2 separate regions of the Homo sapiens genome follow, and region 2 is linked to region 1. The links come from fine-mapping of genetic effects on gene expression. Tissue or cell type: whole blood. Region 1 holds a variant in brackets; the other region holds the start of a gene. All regions are shown on one strand. Distances are between the middles of the regions.

The links. PIP is the estimated chance that this variant, and not a neighbour inherited with it, causes the effect.
Region 2: H2BC21 starts here. The variant in region 1 is fine-mapped to the expression of H2BC21 in whole blood (TOPMed, PIP above 0.99).

What each region holds. Positions count from the first base shown.
Region 1 is chr1:149,983,096-149,987,359 of GRCh38, forward strand. All of the region lies in intron 1 of OTUD7B (OTU deubiquitinase 7B), which reads right to left. Among named protein-coding and RNA genes, the nearest start is that of OTUD7B, 25 kb to the right of the region's middle. The variant C/T (reference allele first, on the strand shown) is at 1,895.
Region 2 is chr1:149,884,976-149,888,975 of GRCh38, forward strand. It overlaps H2BC21 (H2B clustered histone 21), which reads right to left and starts at 1,707. Exons shown (of 1, transcript NM_003528.3): 1 at 1-1,707. The coding sequence starts at 1,665. The coding sequence ends at 1,285. It overlaps H2AC20 (H2A clustered histone 20), which reads left to right and starts at 1,943. Exons shown (of 1, transcript NM_003517.3): 1 at 1,943-2,436. The coding sequence starts at 2,000. The coding sequence ends at 2,389. H2AC21 (H2A clustered histone 21) reads right to left here and starts at 2,990. Exons shown (of 1, transcript NM_175065.3): 1 at 2,494-2,990. The coding sequence starts at 2,941. The coding sequence ends at 2,549. RefSeq lists enhancers at 251-300, 310-903, 681-760, 1,171-1,260, 1,331-1,620 and 6 more.

The DNA.
Region 1 (4,264 bases):
CCACCCGCCTTGGCCTCCCAAAGTGCTGGGATTACAGGCGTGAGCCACTGCGCCCGGCCTCCTCTGTACTTTTAAACCTGCCTGCTCACTAAGACATCCAGTCTCTTAACCACCTTATTCATTAATTCAACAGAAGTATTTGGAGTGCCTTTGTGTGAGGCACTATGCTCATGAGTAAAAACACAACAGTGAACTAGACACAATCCCTATCCTCAAAAGCTTCCAGCATGGAGGAAAAAACCACAAAATCCTACCATCTTCCTGAGCAATTTCAACAACCACCTGCACAATTCATCTAACATTTCTGCCTTTCATAATCTTTTCAAATATTTTCACAAACAATTATAATAAAGCAATGTTAGAGAAGGGAGTGTTATCTCCTATAGGGAGTCAGGAAAAGCTTCCCCAAGGAAATTATGTTTCATCTATGAATTAAGATTAATTAAGATTAAGCAGCAATTGGAGAGACAAATTGGGAAAGGAAGAACGCTCCAAGCAGAGGAAACATGCGCTAAACTTCCGTGGCAGGAAGGAACATAAAGATGAGAATGTTGCTACAGGAGGATGAAGAGAGGGCCTAGTGGACCCTGTTAAAGATTTGAGATCTTATCTTAAATATAATGGGAAGCCACTGAAAGGTTGCACGCAGAGGTAGAACATAATCAGATGTGAATTGTTAAAAGATCACCCTGGTTACAATGTGAAGAGTTTGGAAGAAGCACAGTGGATTTAGGGAGAGAATTGATTAGAAAATTCTTGCAAAATAGCGCTAAACCAGGATAAAAGCAGTGAAGGTTGAGGGAAATGGATAGATTCCACTTTATCTCTTCTTACCTAACAAAGTAAAACCAATAATTGATCACCTAATTTACTTTCCTGTGAAAATTTAGTTTCCTTATCCATTTCATCTGTCCAACTTGGATGGATCCCACATTCTAACTTCCCTGCTAACCTTGCAGAGCAATATGACTACTAACATGTTATTCAGCCACCTTGCTTTTATTGAAACACTGCTATCTTTGCTTTAGTACCTCAATCAATCTTCTGAGCTACTATCCCATACCTTCACCATGCTCCTTGAGCCTCCCACCCAAGCCACATCACCTCCCCTTACTCCTGTCAAATGACCTTGCCTCCTACTTCACAGAAAAAAAAATTACAAAGCAAAGCAAGAGGGGTTCCTTTAGGTTTCCTCCCCTGCTCCTATTTGTTGGCGGTTACTCTCCTCTTCCCTGCAAATCTCCTTGTCCTCAACCTACAAAAATAGGCTTCTGCAGAAAGAGAATGGCACTGGCTTATATATAAGATGAACACAATCATCCTTACTTCTGCTCTCTTTGTAGCATTTGACACTTACTGACCACTCTTCCTGCTTCTCTGGCCCTGTGTCTTGGTCGTCTTTGTGGACTCCCATTTCTGTGACTGAACCAAACTTAGTGCACCCACCATTCTAGCCTTAGGCCTTCCATCTTCTCATTGAAACTTCATTCACAGCCCTAAGCACCCAAATGTTCATGACTCCAAATGTATCTGCACCCCCAAATTCTTTCCACCTCACCTGGGAATCATACAGGCACTTAAAATTCAGTATATAAAAACATGAGCTTATTCTCTCATCTCTGTCTCCCATCCTTTCAAACTATTCCTCTTCCAGTACTGCCTATTGTAGCAAATAGTCCCCAATCATCCAAGTCACAAGCCAGGGAGCCGCCCTGGACTTCTCTCTTGCCTTATCCACACAAATAATCTTTCACTAAGTTTTACTAATTTTACCTTAAATATCTCTCAAATCCCTGCAAAACCTTCCACAGGCTACAGCTCTTTTATTCTATCTCAGGTTTTCATAACCTGCACCCCAGGAAATAGCTCCCTAACTCCTCCCTCTACCTCTCTC[C/T]GTCAATTGATTGGCCTCCACAGGCAACCACTATGAGCAATTTAAAATGCCAGTATTATAGTATTACATCCCACTGTTCTAAATTCTTCAATGGATTTTCAATGGCTAAAGCCTAAGACTCAAATTCCTATACAGAGGCCAGGCACAGTGGCTCATACCTGTAATCCCAGCACTTTGGGAGGCCGAGGCGGGCAGATCACTTAAGGTCAAAAGTTCAAGACCAGCCTAGCCAACATGGTGAAACCCCATCTCTGCTGAAAATAGAAAAATTAGCCAGGCGTGGTGGTGTGTGCCTTTTATCCCAGCTACTCGGGAGGCTGAGGCAGGAGAATCACTTGAACCTGGGAGGTGGAGGTTGAGTGAGCCAGGATCATGCGACTGCACTCCAGCTTGGGCGACAGAGCGAGACCCCATCTCAAAATAAACAAACAAAAAAACAAATTCCTATACAGGGTCGGGCATGCTGGCTCACGCCTGGTGGCTTGCACCTATAATCTTAGCACTTTGGGAGACCACGGAGGAAGGATCACTTGAGTCCTGGAGTTTAAGACCAGCCTGAGCAATGTAGCAAGAACCCATCTCTACAAAAAAATTAATTAATTAATTTAATTAGTCGGGTGTGGAGGTGCACTCCTGTAGTCCCAGCTACTCAGGAGGCTGAGGTGGGAGGATCACTTGAGCACAGAAGGTTGATGCTGCAGTCAGCCATGATGGCACCACTGCACTCAGCCTGAGGGACACAGTGAGACCCTGTATGAAAAAAAAAAAAATCTATACAGGACAAACAAGGCCCTTCATGATCTGGCTCTACCTAATTCTCCAGCCTTTTCTACCTCCCATTATTCCCTTCCTTGTACTGGGAGTTCCCGAAGTGTACTATGTGCTTCAAATCTCAGTCCCTTTGCACATATTGTTCCCTCTAACTGGAGTAACTCCTAGGTGTAGCAGGTGAATTCTCACCTCTTCTTTAAAACTAACTTAAGTACTACCTCATTTGCAAAAGTTCTCTGACTTCCTAAATTGCCCACTTCTTTCTTGGTGCCCCCACTGCACCCTGTATGCTACTTCTACCATAATGTTTATCACCCTGCATGGTAGTTGTGTTTATTTACATGTTTGTCTCCCCACTAAACCAGGAACAATTTGAGGGCAGGAATCTTGGCTTGTTCATCCAATATTCCCCAGCATCCAAGCACAGCAGGCAATTTTTGTTCAGATGAACTGAAGTATATTTGTATGGTACCCCATCACACACACACACACACACACACACACACACACACAGTACTGTTGATAGTCTATCAGTGTTGTACACAGACAAGTCTAAAACAGTAACTCATCTCAAAGACATATGTTTAAGATTGTTATACGACTTTATTTGCAACAAATTTCTCTTCCTAAACATTGTTTAGCTCAGAGTAATATTAAAATCAGTCTGCATATTCCAAGTGTCCAACTTACTTAATAACAGAGAAAAATGACCCAAAATTAAAGACCATGGATAATAACCCTCTATTAAAATGCCAGAGAAACTACTGACCGTACATTCTCTCATTTACAACATCCCCCAAAGCTTCCAGAGTTTCACTCTCTAACCGTCTCCTGATTCCACTGAAGCATTAGAGCTGCATTTGAGTCCTCTCCAACTCTTCCCATAACTCACTGGAAAACCACAACATTCAAGACTGTCAAAAACTTTAAAAAGTCAGAGACTCCTCCATGTCTATGATGTCAGTCCCAAGGAATCCAGACAGAGAGAAAGAGGAGGGACAGAGGCACTTAGAACTTTCACATAATTCTTGATTAGGTGGGAGGGAGAGATGAATAATTGTCTTGGCAATTTGTTTTTAGTTAATATGGGTCCTTCAAGTCAAAGAAACAAAATATAACCTTCTTAGAAAATATGACCAATTTTACTATATTTTTTCTTTTTTCTTTTATCTGTGGATCTAGTCCTGAATCCAGACCAATCCTACTCTAAAGGGATCTATATAACACTAAATGTTACAATCCAGAAGTAACAAGATGAGTCTCAAAGTAAGAAGAGAAAGAAAGTAATATGTTTTAAAGCTTTAGATATTATTTCATTTAAACTTCCAAACAACTCTGAGAACTTGGTATTGTTACTCCACATCACAGATGAAGATACTAAAGCTCACAGAGGTTAGGTAATATGCCCAAGGCAACACAGGTAAAAGTGGCAGACCCAGGATTTTTATCAACCCAGCCCAGCTGACTCCAGAGAACATACGCTCACATACAATGCCACATTTTGTCCAGGGAGGAGGACTAAGAAAACACGGGCAGTCCACCATGTGGAAGTCCACCCTCACTGCTTCAACTCCTCTCAACTCCACATCAGAAGAAAGA
Region 2 (4,000 bases), 98 kb before region 1:
ATTTGATGAAAATCCATAAGAGGTTATGCTAAACTGAGAAGCATAAGGGTGGATCTACCATTGCCACCTCCTCTTTGTAGCAAAAAAAATCTTAACACGGCCCCCTCCCAGCTGTTGCACTGAGGTGACTAAGGATACATTTTGAGGAAGTAGCTCCAAGAACATTTCCATTTTCACTGTGCCTTCACATACATCTAATGGAAATGAACAGCACCCTTCATCCATCCACGGAAGCGATTAAGAAAAGGGTGGGATGGAAAAATTAACCCAACAATATTAGATCAATACGTAGTATTTAAGTGTCCATAATGTGCCAGGCTGAAGATGCACGGGAAAACCACACTAGCCGGTCTGTCAAGGGCTTGAGAATACCATAAACAAGAAAACAGACGAACCAATTTCAGACAGCTGCTAGAAGGAAGATAAAATGAGACAGGCAAGTATGAGAGGCGCGAATTCCTGAGTGGATGACGTAGGTCTCTGAGAGGTGACTTTTGAGCCCGTATCTACATGGTAAGTGCCTCGCAGTGACCTGGGGCCGTAGCGTTACCATTTAAAGCACAGACCATTAAATGCAGAAATTATCAACAAAATGAGAAATAGGAATTTCAAAGTCTCAAAGTGAACGACGGAAACTGAAATCTACAAATTAGAAAAAGGCGCAGAATTTTGAATATTCTTGTCGCCCAATCAGGACAAGGCTGGGACCCGGCTGCGCGGCCTTCGTCCAAAATACACAGAACGGCTGGTATCCACAGGAGGCCCCATCGCACGGCAGAACTGGTGACCGGACACAAAAGCTGCTGCCAAGCGTCAGTCATACAGAGCTGTCACGCAGTGTTTGCGGAACCCGGGCTGAATTGTGTCCTGGAGTTCTCTTAAATGACAGCCGAACTCAGCCACTTCGTTTTAGAATGAAACAGACCCAAGGAGCCACCAGGGCGCGTGTGGGGCGGGAGTGGGGGCGGGTAAAGAGGCGGATTCCCAACAGCCTAATTGAGAACCGACTCCTGGGAAGGCTAAGCAGCACAATGAGTAAAGACACGCTCTAGATTCAAAAGCAAATCCAATGACGCACTGGGGACCTCGAGTTCCAAATAGTTAAAAAGCTACGTATGCCATTTCCCATGACCTTCACACTAAAATAACTTACTTTATGAAAAGAAACTAAGGGAATAAGTGAACAAGCTCTTTTCTAGTGATTAGGTGGGTGGCTCTGAAAAGAGCCTTTGGAGTCAAGCAGCCGGCGACTCGAGCGAGCGAGCGCCAGGTCCCGGCAGGGACTCACTTGGAGCTGGTGTACTTGGTGACCGCCTTGGTGCCCTCGGACACGGCGTGCTTGGCCAGCTCGCCGGGCAGCAGCAGGCGCACGGCCGTCTGGATCTCGCGGGATGTGATGGTGGAGCGCTTGTTGTAGTGCGCCAGGCGGGAAGCCTCTCCCGCGATGCGCTCGAAGATGTCGTTGACGAAGGAGTTCATGATGCCCATGGCCTTGGACGAGATGCCGGTGTCGGGGTGGACCTGCTTCAGCACCTTGTACACGTAGATGGAGTAGCTCTCTTTGCGGCTGCGCTTGCGCTTCTTGCCGTCTTTCTTCTGGGCTTTGGTGACGGCTTTCTTGGAGCCCTTTTTAGGGGCCGGAGCGGATTTTGCCGGTTCAGGCATGGTAAGACACAGTACAAACGCGGCTTAGCCAAGAAAAGAAGTAAGAGAATGGGCGGGCCTGATTCTTTTATAACCACCTTATGCAAATTAGGGCTCCGAAAGTCGTTCATTTCCATTGGTCCGTGTGCGGACCTTGCGTTTTCAGCAATGCGTACGTAACAACACCGACTCTTGACTTGATTGGCCGGTTCTGAAGCCATATTAGGACCAATGAAAAACTCGTTCTTGACCCCACCCCTAGGAAAGCTTATAAAGGCTTTCCTCTTGGTTCTCTTTCAATCTTATTTTGTTGCGAGGTTCTGAGCGTTGTCTGTGTTTAACCTTGATTTCAGTCATGTCTGGTCGTGGCAAACAAGGAGGCAAGGCCCGCGCCAAGGCCAAGTCGCGCTCGTCCCGCGCTGGCCTCCAGTTCCCGGTAGGGCGAGTGCACCGCTTGCTGCGCAAAGGCAACTACGCGGAGCGGGTGGGGGCCGGCGCGCCCGTCTACATGGCGGCGGTCCTCGAGTACCTGACCGCCGAGATCCTGGAGCTGGCGGGCAACGCGGCTCGGGACAACAAGAAGACGCGCATCATCCCTCGTCACCTCCAGCTGGCCATCCGCAACGACGAGGAACTGAACAAGCTGCTGGGCAAAGTCACCATCGCCCAGGGCGGCGTTTTGCCTAACATCCAGGCCGTTCTGTTACCAAAGAAAACCGAAAGCCACAAAGCCAAAAGCAAATAAATGCAGACAAACAAACCAAGACCAAAGGCTCTTTTTAGAGCCACCCAAGTTTTCAAAAAAAGAGCTAATGCGCTATTTCGTGATCAGCCCTTCATTTGACACTTTGGTGGCTCTTAAAAGAGCCTTTGGGGTGAATGAGTATGGTGTCAAGCCTCTTAATTACTTGTTCTTGCCAGGCTTGTGACTCTCCGTTTTCTTGGGCAACAGGACAGCCTGGATATTGGGCAAGACGCCGCCCTGGGCAATGGTGACACCCCCGAGTAACTTGTTGAGCTCTTCGTCATTCCTCACGGCTAGTTGCAGATGGCGAGGGATGATGCGCGTCTTCTTGTTGTCCCGAGCCGCGTTGCCCGCCAGCTCCAGAATTTCCGCGGTCAGGTACTCGAGGACCGCCGCCAGGTACACCGGGGCGCCTGCCCCGACCCGCTCCGCGTAGTTGCCTTTGCGCAGCAAGCGGTGCACTCGCCCCACCGGGAACTGGAGACCAGCGCGGGACGAGCGCGACTTGGCCTTAGCGCGGGCCTTGCCTCCCTGCTTTCCGCGTCCTGACATTACGGCTAAAATTGCAGTTACAGCTTCTTTTACAAGGAGAAGAATGTGGAAAGAATAACCAATTTGATGTAATTTATAAGAGCTACCGGGAGGGGTGAAGGGAAGTCGTTTGATTGGCTAAAAGCGGAGCCGTATCTAACAGCCAATAGAAAAGCAGAAAGCCGCCTCTTGGTTTGCGTCCTGCACTGAAAGGAAATGACGGATTTTGTAAGTATCTACCAATCGCTGAGAGCCACATTAAAGCCCCTTATTTGCATGCCAGGATCTTTAAAGAGAGCAGGCTTTCAAACAAAATACTGGTTTTGTTTTACTGAGAGGCACTGTGGGTTTTTGTTTTGTTTTGCTTTGCTTTGTTTAGTTTACAGCCGGGAAATCCCAATATGGACCCTAAGGAACTGCAGAAGACATCCTTAGACGGAGAGTTACTCTCACGAAAGAGTAGGGGATTCTGAAGCCGATGATCCCCTTGAGCTCTAAACTGCCAAGTCCCGCCCTTTCTGTCTCGTCACAGCCAAATTCCCTTTAAAAATACATGTACTACTAAGGCTGCCTCCTTTCTCGCCCCTAAACTTAAGTCGCCCGCAGCGGCGTGTCTCCGCCCCACCCCCACCCGCCTGCACTCCTCGGAATCCGGTTTGACCGAGGCTAGAATAGATTTGTCATCCTCCTCTTGACCTCCAGGAGGCGGCCTTCAAACTTGCTCCCTTGGCTTTCAAAATGTCGCCCTGTTTTTCTTCTTACCTCGCCGACTTTTCTTATCCTGCTCCCCCATGCCACTGCCCATCTCTAAATCTGCGAGTCCAGCTGGACTGTTTCCCTGTCTCCAATTCTTCACTTATCCCGAAGAGTCTTACCCATTTATATGCTTTCAACTAACGTCCAAATTTGTTTCAGAAGCTCAGACCCTTATGCCTAACTGCTTACAGAATACTTCAACCTACTTATCCCAACGAGCACCTCAAACTCAAACTCTACCTCAGCCTATCCGAACGCGAACTCATACAAACAACCTCCCCTCTTTGCCCTCTTTTCCTGAAATGCACCAGCATACTTACAGAT